3 separate regions of the Homo sapiens genome follow, and regions 1 and 3 are each linked to region 2. Evidence: fine-mapped expression QTL. A gene starts in region 2. Each other region holds a variant in brackets. All regions are shown on one strand. Distances are from middle to middle. Region 1 overlaps CPNE5 (copine 5). Region 2 holds the start of RAB44 (RAB44, member RAS oncogene family). Region 3 overlaps RAB44 (RAB44, member RAS oncogene family).

Evidence for each region.
Region 1: its variant is fine-mapped to the expression of RAB44 in whole blood (INTERVAL, PIP above 0.99).
Region 3: its variant is fine-mapped to the expression of RAB44 in whole blood (INTERVAL, PIP 0.95).

The regions. Positions count from the first base shown.
Region 1 is chr6:36,745,932-36,752,213 of GRCh38, forward strand. It overlaps CPNE5 (copine 5), which reads right to left. Exons shown (of 21, transcript NM_020939.2): 15 at 2,290-2,336; 16 at 465-646. Among named protein-coding and RNA genes, the nearest start is that of RAB44, 51 kb to the left of the region's middle. The variant A/G (reference allele first, on the strand shown) is at 2,860.
Region 2 is chr6:36,694,674-36,700,955 of GRCh38, forward strand. It overlaps RAB44 (RAB44, member RAS oncogene family), which reads left to right and starts at 3,153. Exons shown (of 14, transcript NM_001257357.2): 1 at 3,153-3,242.
Region 3 is chr6:36,716,475-36,722,756 of GRCh38, forward strand. It overlaps RAB44 (RAB44, member RAS oncogene family), which reads left to right. Exons shown (of 14, transcript NM_001257357.2): 5 at 799-945; 6 at 1,554-1,644; 7 at 2,019-2,114; 8 at 3,889-4,076; 9 at 4,677-6,259. Among named protein-coding and RNA genes, the nearest start is that of RAB44, 22 kb to the left of the region's middle. RefSeq lists enhancers at 478-979, 3,633-3,812. The variant A/G (reference allele first, on the strand shown) is at 3,558.

The DNA.
Region 1 (6,282 bases), 51 kb after region 2:
GTCCCCAGCTCGTGGGAGCCAGGGAAAGGGGTGGCCTGTGCAATCATCTCCACAGGGCCCGGGATGCCCAGATGACGCCATGCTCCACATCACCCTGGAGATCCACGTCATCCCATCTCAGCACTGACTCAGGGATACCCAACCCACACCACCTTGTTCACTTTTCTGGGGCCCTGAGGGATGGGTCAGCCACAGCTCGCCTCCACCTGCACCTGCGTCTTGTCAGGAACAAGGAAGCCAGGGCCAGCTGTGGGCAGGCAGCTTCAGACATGGAGGGGCAGCATCTGTGATCAGGGAAGGGAGTGGATTTCTGGAGCCCCCCTACACACAGCAGGCAGTCTACCTCCACTGAGGCTGAGCCTTAAGTCCCCGGGCTCAGAGGAAGGGAAACGTCCCCCCACCCCCAGCTTGTCACCTCACCCCCAGCCTGATCAGTCCTCTCTCCCACCAGCGGGACCACCTACCAGTGGGAACTCGTGGGACACTCTGCCATCCGGGGGCAGCTTGGCCCCGAAGCCCAGGGCAGGGAACATCTTGTCACTGTCGTAGTGCTGGATGATCTCTCCGACGGCAGTCAGCGCCAGCGCGTAGGCGTTCAGCTGGTAGGGGCTCATGTAGTGCAGGGATGTGGACTGTGAGGGGTTCCCTGTAACACAGGACATGGGAGCCTTTGACCATCTGGACCCTCCAAGTCACCCCGGGTTCAGAATGAAGAAGGGGGTGTCCAAGGGCACCCCTAACTTTTATTAATTCTTGACTCCTCTCTTTCTCTCATACCCCATGTTAAATCCTTCAGCAAAACAGATCTAGAATCCCTCCTCCGCCTCTCCTCCTCCCCATACCACCACCCTCTTGCTTATAGGATGCAGCAGTCTCCTAACTGATCTCCCACTTCCTTCTGCCCCTGTGCCTCCAGCCCATATCCAGCACAGCAGTGACTGAGCCTATCCGCCTCAGAGAGATCATGCCTCTCCTCTGCCCAAAACGCTCAATGCCTCCACCTCCCCCAAAATGAAACCCAAAGTCCTCACAAGAGCCCGCAAGCACTCATGATCTGGCCTCCAGGTCATCTCCTACCCTCCTCCCTGTCACTCGCCAGTCCCAGCCTCACCAGCCCCTCGCCATTCCCACCTCAGGACCTTGGTGATGGCTGTTCCCTCTACCTGGGACACTCTTCCCCAGATGTCCACTCCCTGGCCCGCTCCCTGGCCTCTTCAGGTCTCTGCTCAAGTGTCACCTCCTCAGTGTGATCTTTTCCAAGCAGCCTATTAAAAATTACAGCCTCCCCCAATCCTTCCTATCCTTCTTCCTGGCTTGATTTCCCCCCCCAGAGCCCTCTTCGCTGCCAATATAGTCTGTATTTAACTTATTTGTTCATTGATGGGAGGTAGTACAGCACAGATTGCCAAGGTACCAATCCTGTCTACCTCCTGCTAGTTATGTGATCTTGGGTAAGTTCCTTAACCTTAGCCTTAGTCTCTTCACCTGTAAAATCAGAGCAATAATAGTTCCTACTTCATAGGATTGATGTGAATATTACACAGATGCTATCGATATTATGATAACTATCCTCAGTGTTATTATTACTAAGGCCCCTTCCAGCTCTGATAGCCCAGTGCTCTATGATGCTAGGACTTACAGCTATAAGAGGAGCTCCTGACACCTGTAGAGGGCAAGACCTGGGCATTTTTGATTGGTGCAAAAATTAGCACTGAGCACCCCTAATAGAGCCCAGAGCCCAAGGGAGGTTGTGATGTTTCTAATCATGTAAAGTTGGGCACTGTTATTGCTCCTAGTGACTCAGCCACAGGCTGACACTGGAGAAATTGGGAGGAGGTAAGGAAGCCAGGGCAGCCCCAGCCAGGTAAGGACTGGGGTCCCTGGGCTGGATCCTGCCTCCCTGAACACCACAGAGCTCAGCCTTGGCTCTGATTCTCCACTCCAGCCTGTGGGTTGGACTGCACAGAGGAGCTGGGATTTGATCCCGGGGGGAAACATCTCCAGGGCCCTCCATAGGCCCAGAGTACACACAATCCCATTCCCCCAGGGAGACTGGGTGTTCCTCAAGGACAAGGCTGTGGCTCAGAGCCCAGATTTATGTCAATGGTCCAACCTGGGGATACTACTGCCATCTTGGTTGTATCTTTGGTCCTCCAGACCTAGGTACATCCTCTTTGGTGAGGAAGAGGCCAGAGAGTATGAGGGTCATGGTCCCAGCCAGGGCCAGATGCCACAGCCCTTAAAAGCTCTCTCCTCCCACCCTGCTCCTCTACCCATCCCCCAACTCACCATTGGAGGCAGTGAAATCAATGGCCACAGTGAAGTTGATCTGGGTCCTAGAAGAGGGAGAACAGCAGGGGAGTCACCTGGAGGGAGGCAGGGCTGTGGGAGGGGGGACAGTGCTAGACATTGGCTACCACCCTGGCTCTGCTGCTTGCCAGGTGTGTGGCCTTGGTGAAGTCATTCATCTCTTTCTAGTTCTGGAGAGCTGAGATAGTAATGCCAGCTATGCCCCCCTTACAGGATTAATGAGCATCAGAAGAGTTATGCAGTAGGAAAGCTCTTTGAAGATGATTGTGTTCTGTGTGGGCATGTGGCTATGGTCACTTATTTCCTCCACAAACCCTACCCCCTGGGCCCACCTGTGTAGGCTGGGTGAGGTTGGGTCTCATTGGATTGCTGACTCAAATTTGGAGTGAGATTCAGGACGAAAACTCATTTGACAAAAAAGAGAGTCAAATAGACATTATGCATCTCCTAAAGAAAGAATAGAATACCACCCATGAAGTTGTCTTACCAAAAAATTGAACCTGATTCTGATTGAGGCTCCAGAGCTGTCTAGTTAGTTACAGGAAATAC[A/G]AGGGACAGAGGAACACATTAAATGACACCACAGGAGATGCAGCCAGCAAAATCCAGTCTTTGGGAAACTCTGTAGAAGCACTACCAGAGACAGCAGCAGCACCATCTCCTGGGAATATGCTGGGCCTCTCAGACTCTATCTAGCTCTCCTGAATCTTTTTTTGGAAAAGAGGTCTCGCTCTGTCACCCAGGCTGAAATGCAGTGGCGTGATCACAGCTCACTTCAGCCTCAACCTCCTGGGCTCAAGCAGTTTTCCCACCTCAGCCTCCTAAATAGCTGGGACCACAGGCACGCACCACCACACCTGGCTTTTTTTTTTCTTTTTGCAGAGATGGGGTCTCATTATATTGGCCAACCTGGTCTTGAACTCCTGGGCAAAAGTAATCCTCCTGCCTCAGCCTCCCAAAGTGCTGGGATTACAGGTGTGAGCCACCACATCTGGCTGAATATTAGATTCTCTTGGTGGGGTACAGGAATCTGTGTTAGCAAGCCATTCAGGTGCTTGGGGGGAATGAATAGATGAAAAGAGAATTAAGAGACCAACCCACCAATCACAGCCTATGGCTCTTGCCTGGATTTCTGACTCAAACAAACCAATTTTAAAACTATAAGATAATTGGGGAGATGTAAACATTTACTAGATATTTAGTATTAAGGAATTGTTAATTTTTTAGGTGTGGTTATGGTATTGTGGTTATGTTTGATAAAGAGAGAGTCCTTATGTTTTAGAAAGACATCCTAAAGCATTTGGGGATAAAATATGATGGCTGGGATTTGCTTCAAATTGGATATTGGGAGCCTGAGGTGGGAGGATTGATTGACACTAGGAGTTCAAGGCCAGCCTGAGCAACATAGTGAGACCTCAAAAATAAAAAAAAAAAACCCACTAAAATAAAAAATAATAATAAATGACTGAATGAAGGGTGGAGTGCATGAAACAAGACTGGCTATGATGTGGTAATGGCTGAAGCTGGGTGAAGGGTACTTGCATGTTGATTATACCTTTTCTCCACATTTGCATGTGTTTGACGTTTTCTATAATAAAAAGTTAGGTTTTGAGGATTCAGATTCAGGCTTGAGACTTTCTGAGGGCTTGGCCATTCTAGGTTCTCTGCCGGGTCCAGACAGAACAAAGCTGACAAACACAAGTCCCTGATAAAGTCTAGTCTTATGGTTCTCACACGGCAGTGAGCATAGAATCACTACGGGTGCTTGCTTAAGAAGATTCCAGGGCTCCACCCCAGAAATGCCAATTGAGTTTGTCTGGAGTGGCTCCCAGAATCTACCTCTTGAAAAAATGTCCACTGCCTTCATCCAGGGATTATGAGGACACGAGGCTGGGATAACGCTGGGGAAAACTCTGTTCTAGTAATTCTTAGTTGGGGCTATGGATGATGTAAGATCAGGTAGGCCTCACCTCACTTGCATTTAGCAGAAGGTGCCTATCAGAAACCACAGCTCTATCAGCCCAAGATCCCTGTCACAGACACAGCAGAAGGTCCCTATCAGAAACCACCTGATCACAGCTGAGCTGCTGCTCATGGAACCCTCACTCACCCCCAGGGAAATGTCAAGGACATGGTTAGCAGGAGACCCCAGCCAGGGTCTGCTGGCCACAGACAGTCATCCCCACCTCTTTCTCCTCTTCTGCTGGCTGGGGGCAGAGCATCCAGAGGATTCCAGGCAGTAGGATAGAAGGAGCCGCAAAGCTAGCAAGAACCTGGGTCCCTGAATGACTGCGTGGATCATCTCCCCACCCAACCCTGCCATCCCACAGATGAAAAACAGACCTTTATTGGTATGAAGGCTTGAGGTTAGGGAATTATGTGTTACAGCAGTTGACCTACCATACTCATCTGCTGTTTGTTGTCACCCCCGCTTCAGTGTGGAATGTAGAACGCATGTCTTTGTTAGAGGTAGGGAGACATTTGGAGGGTGAAAGTCCCGCTCCCAGGGCCACTCTTGGGAAGATGATTCTGGCCTGTGGGACTATACTGGAGGGACACTGTTGGACTGGCTCTTCCAAATACAGGGTGAGGGGAAAGGCAGGCCTTGCTCTAACTAGTCCTCCCCTGCCCTGGGTTCTGAAAAGCCTTGGGAAAGGAAGCAATTGGAAAGCAGATCCTCTTGTGGGAAAATTACTCGCAGCAGCCTAGTGTCTCCTGCCTAAGGGTAGAACACAGGCTGCTGAGCAACCAGCTCCTCCTCTGACAGTGGGGCCAAAGTACCCATACCCTTCCTCCTGGGTCCAGGTGGGCAGGTGAGGGAGGCCAGGGAGGAGAGGATCCCTAGACATCAGCTTCCTGCCTGGGCATGCATGCCAGGCTCTCAGTCCCTGGAGCCAGCTCCCTCACTCAGGCTCTCCAGAGAGTTTAAAGAGAGGGCTGGCTCTGGGGCTATAACCTGCCCAGTATGGGTGGCACCAGCTTAGCTCAGCCTCTGAGGGCTCCTTTTCGATGAAACCTCACAGCATCCAGCCCTTTAACTCATCAGTCTCCATCTTCATCCCACCCCACCCGCTAACTGCAAGTCAGGCAGGCTAGACTGATTCATTACTATAGAATGAAAGGCAGCATGTTATGGGAGAAGGAACCCTGCCACCATCTAGGCGTGTGGCTTCAGGCAAGCTCTGTAAAATGGGGATAACTGTTCTGATCCTGCCCACTGTGTTCTGTAAGTTGGGGGTACTATGCAAATGAAAAAAATAAATAGGATGGACTGGGTGTGGTGGCTCATGCCTGTAATCCCAGCACTTTGGGAGGCCGAGGCAGGCGAATCACCTGAGGTCAGGAGTTCGAGACCAGCCTGGCCAAAATGGTGAAAGCCCGTCTCTACTAAAAATACAAAAATTAGCTGGGGGTGGTGGCGCATGCCTGTAGCCCCAGCTACTCTACTTGATAGGCTGAGGCAGGAGAATTGCTTGAACCCAGGAGGCGGAGGTTGCAGTAAGCCGAGATTGTGCCACTGCACTCCAGCCTGAGTGACAGAGCGAGACTCTGTCTCAAAAAATAAATAAAATAAAATAAAATAAAATAAACATAAATAAAAATAAACAGGATGAGGGGTGTTTGAGAGTTACCAGGTGCTATGGACTGTAAGGGGTGGCTGATTAATGGGATTGAGAGGGAAGCAATTTTGATGGGGGAAGAGTGCAAAGGCGGGGTCTGGAGTCAGCCCAGAGGAGGGGCAGGTAAGAGCAGAGGAGCTCCTGAGTGACTGGAGGCAGGGTGTGTGCTCAGTGGGTAGGAGGAGAGCTTGCAGCCTTGAGACTGCAAGCTCAAGGCAGCAGGGAGTGTTGTCATGGGAAAGTGAGTGTGGCTTCCCAGGACCTGACTTCTCCCTCTGCCCTGGAGAACCAGGCAGCCAAGGGTCCACTTGGCTGGGATGAGCCTTTGGCAGTTGCTCCTGCCTGTCTCCTTTCC
Region 2 (6,282 bases):
TACAATCATATATGAATGTGTGTGCTTATCTATTTTTTTCTTTTTTTGAGACAGGGCCTCATTCTGCCGCCCAGGCTGGAGTGCAGTGGTACAATCACGGCTCACTGCAGCCTTGACCTCCAGGGCTCAGGCGATCCTCCCACCTTAGCTTCCCGAGTAGCTGGTACTACAGACATGCGCCACCACGCCTGGCTAATTTTGTTTATTTTTTATAGAGACAAGGTTTCACCTTGTTGCCCAGGCTGGTCTTTAACTCCTGGGCTCAAGCAATCTGCCTGTCTCAGCCTCCAAAAGTGCTAGGATTACAGGTGTGAGCCACCTCACCTGGCCTGTATTAGTCCATTTTCACACTGCTATAGAGAAATACCGGAAACTGGGTAATTTACAAAGGAAAGAGATTTAATTGACTCACAGTTCCATATGGCTGGGGAGGCCTCAGGAGACTTACAATCATGGCGGAAGGTGAGGGGAAGCAAGGACCTTCTTCACATGGCAGCAGGGGAGGAAAGTATATAAGCACAGGAAAAACTGCCATTTATAAAACCATCAGCTCTCTTGAGAATTCACTCACTGTTACGAGAACAGCATGGGGGAAACTGCCCCCATAATCCAATCACTTCCTTCCTTTGACACATAGGGAGTATAATTCAAGATGAGATTTGGGTGAGGACATAAAACTTAACTATATCACGGCCCTTATCTATTGCATATATTTCATACACACACATACACTTTTTTCTTCATAAAAAGCACACTATCCTCACTGTTCTGCACCTTACTTTTTTCATATGACACAATATCTTGAAGGTCATTCCATATCACTCCACCTGGATCTTTCTCATTTTCTTCACGGTGCAGAGTATGCCAATGTTCGGATGTATCAGAGCTCATTTAACCAGCTCCCTACTGATGGAAATTTAGATCATTTCCAATCCTTTGCTACCACAGACAATACTGTAATGAGTATCCTTCCATACTGTCATATTGTATATCATCTGTGGAATCAATGACTGAAAGTGAAATTGCTGGGTAGAAAGATTTTTGCATTTTAAATGTTGACAGATATTATACACTTCTTTTCATAAAAGTTGTACCAGTTTATATTCCTGCCAATAATGTGTGAATGTGTTTCCTACATCCTTTATGACATAATATATCACTTTTTGGATCTTACTAATTGAATAGCTGAAAATGATGTCTCGGTGTAGTTTTATTTTTTATTTTTACCCTCATCTTCTTTGTGATGGTACGTAGTTTTATCTTTTATTTCTCTTATTATATTTTTATAAACAGAAATGTTTACTTTTATAAATATTTTTCATATGTTTAAATCCATTGATATTTATTTTTCCATGAATTGTTTATTCACATATGGTGCCAATTTCTCTAATGCATTATTGGTCTTTCATTGATCTGCAGGAGTTCTTTACAGAGGGAGGAAATTAACTTATTTTCTATGATACGTAAGTATTTTTTCAGAGTTTGCCTTTTGACTTATCAGTGGTGACCTTTTTTTGCCATTCAGTTTTATTTATTTTTAAAAAGTTTCCGTATGGTTGAATGGCTCAATATTTTCTTTTGTGGCTTCTAATGCTTTGTGATATATCTGGAAAGGCCTTGCCTAATCCAAGATTATTTAAAAATTATCCCATGATCTCTTTCTTCCTTTTTTTCTTCTTTCTCTTCTTCTTCTTCTTCTTCCTCCTCCTCCTCCTTCTTCTTCTCCTTCTTTATTATTATTATTTTTTAATGGAGACGGGGTCTCACTATGTTGTCCAGACTGGTCTTGAATTCCTGGGCTCAGGCGATCCTCCTGCCTCAGCCTCTCAGAGTGCTGGGATTACAGGCATGAGCCACCACACCCAGCCTATCCCATGACAGATCTATCTTTCCTTCCTTCCTTCCTCTTTTTTTCTTTCTTTCTTTCTTTCTTTCTTTCTTTCTTTCTTTCTTTCTTTCTTTCTTTCTTTCTTTCTCTTTCTTTCTTTCTTTCTTAGTTTCTTTCTTCTTTCTTTCTTTTTTCTTTCTTCTCTTTCTCTCTCTTTCTTTCTCTCTCTTCTTTCTCTTTCTCTTTCTCTCTCTTCCTTCTTCCTTCCTTCCTCCCTCCCTCCCTCCCTCCCTTCCTTCCCTCCTTCCTTCCTTTTCTTTCCTTCCTTCTTCTGCAACCATGGCAAATGAACTATGCCATGATTTCTTATGGCATTTGTTCAAACATACAGAAAAGCAGAAGAACATAATGAGCCTGCAGTACCCTCATTAACTCCAGCAGGGATCAGAACAGGTCCAGAGCCAGTCTTGTTTCATCTATGTCCTACCTATTCTCCACACTCTTCAATAATTTTGAAGTAAATCCCAAACAACATATAATTATGTGATTTTGATTTTTAAAATGCTTATGTCTTTTATCCATCTGGAATGCTTTTAGAGTTAGAGCTCTTTGTTTTTTGCAGATACCTAGCCCATTCTCCCAACATAGTTTATTGAATAAACCATCTCTTCTCCAATGATTTGAAGTGGTGCCTTTATGATACACTAAATCCCCACAAATATTTGAGTCTATTCCTGTCCCACAAATATTTGAGTCTATTTCATTATTCTGTTCCACTGATTCATCTGTCTATAGTCATGCTCCAATTCCACACTGTTCTGATGGTTGTAGCTCTACAGTGTATTTTGGTATCAGACTAGATTGTTCCCTAAAAGGTGGTTTAGATATAAAGCCTCCCCTGAGGCTCAAAGACACTGTCTGAGAGTGAGGGCCTGAAGTGAGGCAGGATGGGCAGTTCTCCCGGGGCATCCCATACACTTAGCTTCAGCCACGGCTGTGCCCATCAACCTGCTGCTGTCTGGGATAAGGCATTGCCTTGGCAACCAGAGACTGAGGCCCAGTCCTGGCTGTGCCACTAAGGGCTGGGTGATCTTGAGCAGTCCATCTCACTCTTTGGAGCCTCTGCTTAGGAGGGCCTCCCTGCCAGCTCCAGCATTCTCCACTTCAAGACACCAATCAGGGCAGGGATGCCTGGGGGTGCCAGGCAAAATTGTGAAAGGGCCGCCAGTGGTCGCTTCCACAGGAAGTCCTGTAGATGAGCACAGGAGATTGGCTCGCTGGGGAACGGAAAGGGAGATTAAGCAAGACAAGACTGTTAACAGTTCTAGAGCTCGTGGGCTCCGCAGGGCAGCAGTCACCCTACCACCAGGTCCCAGAGCCCAGGGCTGTGTGTTCCACTGGGAGCCTTTGAGAGGTAGGAGCCATCCCAAGGTTGCAATGCTTCTTTTTCTTTGGAAGGATGAGGATGGGGGAGGGAGCTGGGGTCCCTGTTTAACTTCTATGTCAAGGGTGCAAAAGGCAGAGCCCTCTTTTCTCCTGCATTTGGAGCTCTCTGCATGGTCTAAGGGAGGGGATGGGAAAGCACTTGGGCAAGAGGCTGGGGTACATCACTACCCGTAAATGGCTGTGTGACCTAGGGCAAGTCACCTGGTTTCTCAGAGCCTCAGTTTCTCTGTTAGTTAGGAGAGGAGGAGTGAGGATAAGTAGACTGGAACAAGACACTAGGTGGTCTCTCAGGCCCACTGACTTGGACCACTGGGGTTTAGCGACTGTGGCTATTATTTACAGCTATTGAAGCCAGCCAAGTGGAGAGCAGACCCAGTTCTGAGCGCCCTTTGGTGAGACAGTGATGGATACCCGGAGGCCCCAGGCAGGGCCCATGCCAGGTTGTAATCTGCTGCTGCCTGCTGCCCCACCCCACTCTTCTTCTCTGGCTTCCACTTCCTGGTGGGCAGCCTGTGGTGCCTGCTGCCTAACAGAATACCACGGTGGTAGTGGATTCCCGCAGGTGCTTGGGAGTGGGATTCATTTGCTCTCATGTTTGGCTTCAAGTTTTATGCGATTTCTTAGGTGAGGGATGTGGGGAGAGGTGGTCATGCTGAGGGGCTATATGTGTGTCCTAGCCATGAAGGGGTCCCCCACTCTTAAGGACGTGAGGCATGAGGATGCACTAAGGGGAAAGTGGTGGAGGAGAAGGGCGCTGGCAGGGTGGCCCTGCCAGCTGACTCGGAGGGATGTGTGTGCTGGGCGACGGCATTTGCACATGCAGAATGGAATGATGGAATGGCCGTGAGGGGTGCTGTGTCTGACTGAGAGGCTGATGGTGAGGGATTGGAGGGTGAGGATGATGGCCAAGGAGGGTGTGTGTGCGTGCACGTTTGCACGTGTACATTTGTGGATTGACTGAAGGATGTCCTTGCTGTCTCTGAGGGACCAGGCCTGGCCTAGAAGGGACACAGACTGTTTTTAGGTTGTGCTGTCAGGCCGTGGGGGTGCTGTCAGGGATCTGAATGTGAAGGCACGAGGGGTGAGTGCACCATCCCACCTGATGGTGACAAGTGACTGATTTTGAGGTGGCGATGGCTGGAGGGCACCTGCTGCCTTCCTGCCCCAGGCCACCTGTCAGGCAAGGAGCGGGTGGCTGAGTACCCCTCCTGGGAGAGAAGGATTGACTGGCAGAGAGGGCAGATGCTGAGGTGGGGCAGGCGAGGTGTCTGGAAGGTGCTATTTTCTTAAAAAATGCCAGGGGACTGCTGGAAATGGGCTGTGGAGGTGTAGCTTGGCTAGGAACTCCCAGAAAGGAAAGTCAGGAATGCCACATGTCCTAGGATGTGGCTGCAGGGAATTTCTTCCAGGATTCTAACATCCTACACCTGTGGGAGCCCGGCAGGCTGCGATGTGACACTCACATCACAGTGGACTTTGCTTCTGGAGGCTTCTGCACAGGGAATCTTATCTTGCTCCCTTGGCCGTGTTAGCTCCATTGCCGGAAGTACATGAGACATTGGGCGTCACCACAGGAGCCAAGCCTGTCAACGCCCACCCCGTTCCAAAGCCCTTGTCCCACTCAGGGCTACTCCACTGGGTGTTTGTCATCCCCAGAGGGGCCTTCTGCCCAGGGAAGAGCCACCTCTGTAGCCTTGGGGAAGTCCATCCCATGACCAACCAGAAGAGCAGAGTCTGGTGTAGTTCTACCACTGACATCATGGCTGGGGCAGGTCACTCTGCCTCTTGGAACCTCCCTCAGTTTCCTCATCTGTCAAATGGGATCAATTGTATCTGCATGGAACCTGGCTTTTATGTGCCTCAAATAGAATTCACCTTTATCAATATCATCACCACTGTTGTCATTGCTACCTTTACCTGGTAGTCACTGATACCAAGCGCACTCCTAAGTGGCTTTATGTGGATCATATATTCAGCAAATATTTGCAGAGTACCAACTGTGTGCCAAGCGCTGTTCTAGGCTCTTGGGATAGAACAGTGAACAGAATGGTCATCTCCCTACTCACGTGAGGCCTCTATTTCAGCATGAGGAGAAGGAAAATTTACAACAAAAACGAGCAAAAGGCTCTCTATTCTGGGAAGGTGACAAGTGCTAAGAGAAAGTGAAGCTGGAAAGGGAGGTGGGCCATGCTGGGGAATGGGAACTGATGTTTCAACTTTAATTATCTTGCTTAATCCTCGCAGCATCCCCGTGGGAGAGATATTAGTCCTAAGTTTCCAGTGAGGAAACTCAGGCACAGAGATGCTGATTGACTTCCCTAAGGTTGCACAGCCCATGGGCAGCAGAGCTGGGAGAAGCAGAGGTCTGTCTGACTTCACAGCAATGGGACTGGAAGTCACTTTCTCTTGTGAGCCTCCTTTTCTGCATCTCCAGGTCACGAGAGTGGGACTGACCCTCATAGTTCTGAGGCTCAGTGAGTCTTTCTTTTAATTTTACTTTTTTATTTTTTTGAGACAGAATCTCACTCTGTCGCCCAGGCTGGAGTGCAGTGGTGAATCATAGCTCACTGCAGTTTTGACCTCCTGGGCTCAAGTGATCCTCCCATCTCAGCCTCCCAAGTAGCTAGGACTACAGGCACCCCACCATGCCCAGCTAGTTTTATTTTATTTTGTAGAGACAGGGTCTCGCTATGTTGCCCAGGCTGGTCCTGAACTCCTGGGCTCAAGTGATCCTCTCGCCTCAGCCTCCCAAAGTACTGGGATTACAGGCCACCACGCCCAGCTTATTTTGTTGTTGTTGTTTTGTTTATTAATCCCCTTCTATGCTACAGGGAGTCTTTCTTTGAGTGTAACCTGCAAGGCTGGAACTGCCAGGCCAAACCCCATTAGCCACTGAAGAAGGGTCATAGGCCCATGGAGGGAGGGGGCTCCCCTCTTAGGGGGGATGGGGAATGGAGATAGATGGTGTCTTTCTAGGTGTGGAAGGCCTCTAGGCCCAAGAAGGGGTA
Region 3 (6,282 bases), 22 kb after region 2:
AAAAAAAAAAAAAAGAGAGAGATAGAAAGGGAGCCCTGCCTGCTAACGTCCCCTCCTAGGACCCCCGGGTCTGTTAGAACCAGTGAGGGAATTGCCCTCACCCACTGGCCCAGGTTTGCTTGCCCCACCCATGGGGTTCTGTGAGGACAAGATTCCTCACGCTTGGCTCCCGGAGGGTGGGGCCAGGTGTTGTGAGGCAGGCAGGGTAGGACTTAGGGTGTAGACTGGTGGGGCAAGGGGGTGGGGAGCTTTGTATTCATTTGGCATCTTGGCCTAGGCTCAGCCCTCTGGCATCCATCCTCATGACTTAATTAAATCCATGTGAAAGCAGCCTTTATTGGGCACCAACCGTGTGGCAGGCCCTGAGCTGGTGCTTTCATCAGGTGTTTCTCATTCCCCAGTGACCTTGCTTGGCAGGTATCAGCCCCCACCCCATTTTACAAATGAGCCCAGAGAGGGCTTGGGACTTGCTGGAGGTCACACAGCCTCAGAGTGAGAGAAGAGAGAGGGCAGATGGAAGCTCTGGGCCATCAGGCTCCCAAATCCCCCCATCCCACTATTACGGAATCATAGAGAGACACAGTGTGGCGGGGGTTCGAGAAGGGAGAGGGCACATCTGGGAATGGTTCCTGGAGGAGGTGGCGTTTTAGTTGCATCTTGTAGGGTGTCAATAGATTTGGCCCAGGTGCCAAAGTCTCTTGGAGCGCTGCAGTGAAAACTGAGGAGTGGGGCTCCCCTTGCTTCTCCATCCCACCTTGTGTCTGACCCTCCCATCTCTGGCTGTCTTCCCCTCCCCAGGCAGATGGAAATCTGGCAACTGTGGGGGCAGCTGCGGCAGGAGGAGCCCCAGCTGGCAGGCAACCTGGCAGGCTTTCTGGCCAAGATGACCAGCCGCCTGCAGGAGGCCCAGGCGGACAAGGAGGCCCTGGAGCTGACCCTGAGGAAGTGAGTGGGGGGCCTGGCCGGGTGTCTGATACGAAGTAGGTGCTCTTCACATTCCAGTGGAATCTGGTTGAATTTCCCCAGCTCCTCCTGCAGCTGGGCCTGTGAGCTGGATAGGGCAGAGCTGCGCTGGAGGAAGAGGTGGCTCAGGGGACCGGGTGGGGAGGACAGAGTTGGTAATGGCAGGAGTGGGAAGGGCAGGGTGTGTCTTGGTACAGGACCCACTGTGACGCCCAACTCCAGGGGGCCTGCTCCCGTAGACTGTAATGCATGTGGTGACCCTGGAGTTGGGTTATAAGGGCAGGAGGACGGTGAAAGAGGGAGTGGGGACTGAGTGATGGGGTGATGGGGACAATGAGACCCTGGCCAGGGGAACTGGTGACGGTTACAAGGGTCGGCGTGGTAGGATCAGCAGGACCAATGTCAAAGTTGTATGGGTCAGGGGGTTGTTACTGGGATGGCTGTTCTCAGGGTGACAGAGGTCAGTGACTGCTGGCAGAGTGAGGAAAGCAATAGGATGGATTCCAAACCCAAGCCCAGACTGCCCCTGCCAGCAGCAGGCTCCCAGAGGTGCTGATGGGCTGCCTGGCCCCAACTCCTGCTCCTCCCAGGCGTGACTCTGACCACCACCGCGAGGTCCAGCAGCTCTATGAGGAGATGGAGCAGCAGATCCGCCAGGAGAAGCAGCAGCTGCAGGCTGAGGTGGGCTCCCGCCGGCAGCCTGCCTCCTTCCCACTGCCCGGGACACCTCTGCTGGCTAAGGAATGGGGCCAGTGACTGGCCAGGGTGGGGAACAGGAGGCTGCTGTAGTGAATCCTCTCCCTGCCCTGAGCAGCTGGTGTTCCCCAGAGAGACGAGGTGGGGAGTGTCGAGCCTGGGCCCCCTTCCCATCTCTGCCAAGTCTCCTTGTTGCCACAATCTAGGCTGGAACTGGAGGAGTTGTCCTGAGAACCCTCCCTGCTGGGGCATCCTGGCCCAGGCACCCCAGGTGGTGGAGGTGGAGTGTGAGAAGGGCTGGCCTGCCTGGCTAGCTCTTAGAGTCTGCAGGGTGAGGGCTGAATCTACCTACTCCACAGAGCGACTCTCGGGGCCTGGCCCTCACCTCCCAGATGCAGGACGTCCTAGAGGCCAAGGAGCGCGAGGTGCAGCGACTAGCTGAGGGCCAGAGGGAGGTGAGTAATAGGGTTTCCCAGAAACCTACTTCCGAACAGGTCTTTAATATCTATGAACCTCAGTTTCCTATCAGAGACATGGAAATCAGAACTCCTGCCTTAGAAGGTACTGTGATGATTAGAGATACTACATGTGAGGGCCTGAGACAGTGCCTGGCACGTAGTAGGTGCTTTGTGCCTCAGTTGTTCCATCTCTGAAACTGACCTAGCTTCCTGCTTAGGGTCAGGTTACTTGCTGCTGCCCGGACACTGCAGGTCTTATAGCCTGTAGTCACTTCCAGGTGGCACTGTGGTTGAGTGTTTGGGTCTGAGACCCTGCCCCATTTTTTTTTTTTTGACACGGAATCATGCTGTCACCCAGGCTGGAGTGCAGTGGCGCAGTCTTGGCTCACTGCAAGCTCCGCCTCAGTTCACCTCAGGAGAATGGTTCACGCCATTCTCCTGCCTCAGCCTCCCGAGTAGCTGGGACTACAGGCGCCCATCACTGCGCCCAGCTAATTTTTTGTATTTTTAGTAGAGATGGGGTTTCACCGTGGTCTCAATCTCCTGACCTTGTGATCAGCGCCCCATTATCTCTTCCTTTCTCAACTTGAAGACCACTGACCTTGGTAAAATTGTGCTCTGCTGTAACCAGGACAAGAAGCATCCCTTCAGCCCGGGACAAGATTCCTCGAGCCGTCCTCACCACGGCCTGGGCTGGCCCTGTTACCAGGTTGATTTCCCAGGTGCCTCTGCTGCTGCTCCTTGGAAATCGAGGCAGGCCCCTCCTGCCAAGTGAAGAGATAGGGCTTTACACATGGGGCCATTTCGTCCTGTCCCCTGTGGATGTGAAGCTTCTCCCCTCCAATCATTTATTCCTTCACCCCACAGCTACTTATCCAGCACCAACTATGTGCCAGACACTGTTCCAGGTCCTGAGGATCATGACAGACACAAACCTCTGCCCACAGAGTTACCATCTAGTCAGGGAGACAGGTGACATAATAACATAGGAAATGGTGATCAGTGCTAAGGAGAATAAAGTAAAACAGGGAAGGGGGATAGAAGAGTCGTAGGAGTTGAAATCGTAGTCAAAGTAAGTTGAGAAGGGAGTCAAGGAAGGCCTGGCTGAGATGATGACATTGGAGCGAAGACCTGGAGAAGTGTGATATGTGGGGGAAGGGCATCCAGGCAGAGGGAACAGCAGGTGCGAAGGCCCTGAGCGGGCATGAGCTGTGGAAGTTCACAGAACAGTAAGCAGAGCTGTGGACTGGAACAGACTGAGGCAACAGCCATAGGAAAGGAGGTGAGGGTCATGAGGGGAGGTGAGGAGGCTGCAGGAGACTGTGCAGTGTCCCGGAGGCCATTGCAAGAGCTTTGCCTTTCCCTTCACTTGGCCAAGCAATGCTCCCTCTCTGGGTCATGAGATTTGCTGTTGGATCAGGAGCCCCCTGTAGACCAGAC[A/G]GGCTCAGGGGCCAGCAGCCACTGTAGGGCGCTGAGTAGAGGAGGGTGGGATTTGGCTTGGGTGTGGGGCCTTTGTGGCGCTGGTGGTTTTTGTTTCTCACACAGTCTCCCTGCCCTCCCCACCCTAGGATTTCCAGTGCCCCTCCTAGATAGGAGCTAATGGAGCTAGTTAGGCCAAGGAGGGATAACCGCCCACCACTACTCTGATTTAAGCTGGGTCTCCAGGAGCCTGGACAGGGGGTGGGGGTCTGTGTCCCACAATGGCCTTGGGAGGCTTTTTGCGCCCTGGAGGGCATCTGGGCTTCTCTCCGCCTCACCCTCCACCCTGCAGCTGGAGGCCCAGCTCTCCCACCTCAGGAGCACACATCAGGAGGCTGCCTCAGAGAACCAGCAGCTGCAGGAGGCCAAGCGTGACCTGGCTGGGCGGCTGGAGGAGGTGCGGGGGCAGCTGCAGGTGACCAGGGGGCGCCTGGACGCCGCCAGGGGCCGGGTGTCCTGGCAGGTGGAGGAGAAACTGAGGCAAGTGGCTGCTATCCCTGGACTGGGGTGGACTCTAAGGGCCTCCTGGAACCAGTGGGGAACTCTGAGTTCTCTAAGGATCTAGCTAGCACACAGTGCACACATAGACTCCTTCCTTAAACCCCACCCTCTGCCAAGCTGGAACTATCACAACCATTTCTCAGATGAGGAAACTGGGGCACAAAAAAGGGAAACACCTGTGCCCAAGGCCACATGGCTAGAAGTAAAACATGCACATGTGTGCATGTACGTGTACACACATACACACACACATACACACACACACATGTCCTAGTGCAGTGCTAGATCCCTAGCAGGCACTCACTCTACTTGTTATAGCTCAGAGAAGTGGGATGGGCCAGAATGATCAAGGAAGGCTTCCTGGAGGAGGTGAGGCTTCATGTGGGTCTTGAGGATGGACAGGATTGGATGAGGAGGAGGAATGGGGAGCACATACCAGGTGAGAAAGATTGCCTGAGCAAGGACTGGGAGGAGACCTGGCCATGGGGAGAGCAAGGGATGGTGAGGGCTGCAGGTGGGATGGGTGTGACACCACCTACCTGCCCCTCCCCGATCTTTGCTTCCCTGCTTCATTTCCAGTTTTCCTGGAGCGGGTGAGAAGACCCCAGACCCTCAGGCTGCCTCCCCTGAGGAGGCCCCCCTGCCTGGGCTATTTGGGGACAACGATGACTGGGACCAGCTACTGAGCAACTTTGGCAGCCCTCCGCACGGAGCCCTGCAGCTCTGCTGGAGCCCGCCCCCGACCCCAAGAGCCACCTCAGGCCCCCAGACACCCCGTGTGGTCAGGCAGATCTCCATCTCGGAGCCACAGGCTTTTCTATTTGGTCAGGAGCCATCTTCAGATCCAGATGGGGCTCCAAGGACCCCACCTGGGGTGACTTTCAGCGCCAAGGACAATAAAGGAGTGGACCCACATGAGCAGGACATTAGAGCAGAGCAGCCTGTTGAACCGCACGACCCGGACCCCAACCAGGAGCCAGGGTCCACACCCGAGGGCCGCCTCCTCTGGGGTCTCTCAGGAAGCCTGGTGGCACCTGCATTCAAAGTGCTCATTCCTTTGGAGGATGGGCCCCCTCCCCCTGCGAACTCTCCCCCTCCCCAGGCCCCAGCTGGGTCCAGCAAACAGATCCAGGCCTCAGACCCAGATGACAAGGGCCCTGGGTCTTGGGCTCCTCCCAGCGGGGCTCAGCCTGGGGCTGGAGCAGGACCCCAGGAACCCACACAAACCCCTCCCACCATGACTGAGCGGGAAACCCAGCCCGGACCCTCACCCACAACTGCCCTCACAGGAGTGGGCCCAGCCAAGCCGCCCAGGCAGAGAGATGCCCTCCAGCAGGACCTGCATGCCACTGGCTCTGAGCCAAGACTGGGGACCCAGAGGGCTAGAGCCCTCACCCTGGGGCCAGCTGAGCCCTTCCAGGGCCTGGAATTTGTGGGTCCGGTGCCCACAGAGAGGCTGGAGCAGGGCCAGGCGGGCCCAGCGGTGCAGGAGGGCCTTCCTGAGGGGCTAAGAGAAGCTCATGGCCAGGTCCTTGGGCTGGGTGAGCTGTCTGCCTTCCCCCACCAGGAGCTGGAAGAGGAACCCAGGTCTGAGGAAGGAAAACAAGAGGGCAGAGGTGGGCAGGACCTCAGTTCAGAGCAGTCAGAGCAGTCGGTTGAGGCTCACGGCCTAGAAACTGCGCATTCGGAACTCCCCCAGCAAGACTCTCTGCTTGTTTCTCTCCCATCTGCCACACCACAGGCTCAGGTGGAAGCAGAAGGCCCCACTCCTGGAAAATCGGCACCTCCAAGGGGCTCTCCTCCCAGGGGGGCTCAGCCTGGGGCTGGAGCAGGACCCCAGGAACCCACGCAAACCCCTCCCACCATGGCTGAGCAGGAAGCCCAACCCAGGCCATCCCTCACGACTGCTCACGCAGAAGAACAAGGCCCGCCTCACTCCAGGGAACCAAGGGCAGAGAGCAGGCTTGAAGATCCAGGAATGGACTCCAGGGAAGCTGGGCTGACCCCATCCCCGGGAGACCCCATGGCTGGAGGGGGACCCCAGGCCAACCCTGATTACCTCTTCCATGTCATCTTTCTGGGAGACTCCAACGTGGGCAAAACATCCTTCCTGCACCTGCTGCACCAGAATTCTTTCGCCACCGGATTGACAGCTACCGTGGGTAAGGGCATTGGGGAGGGCGGC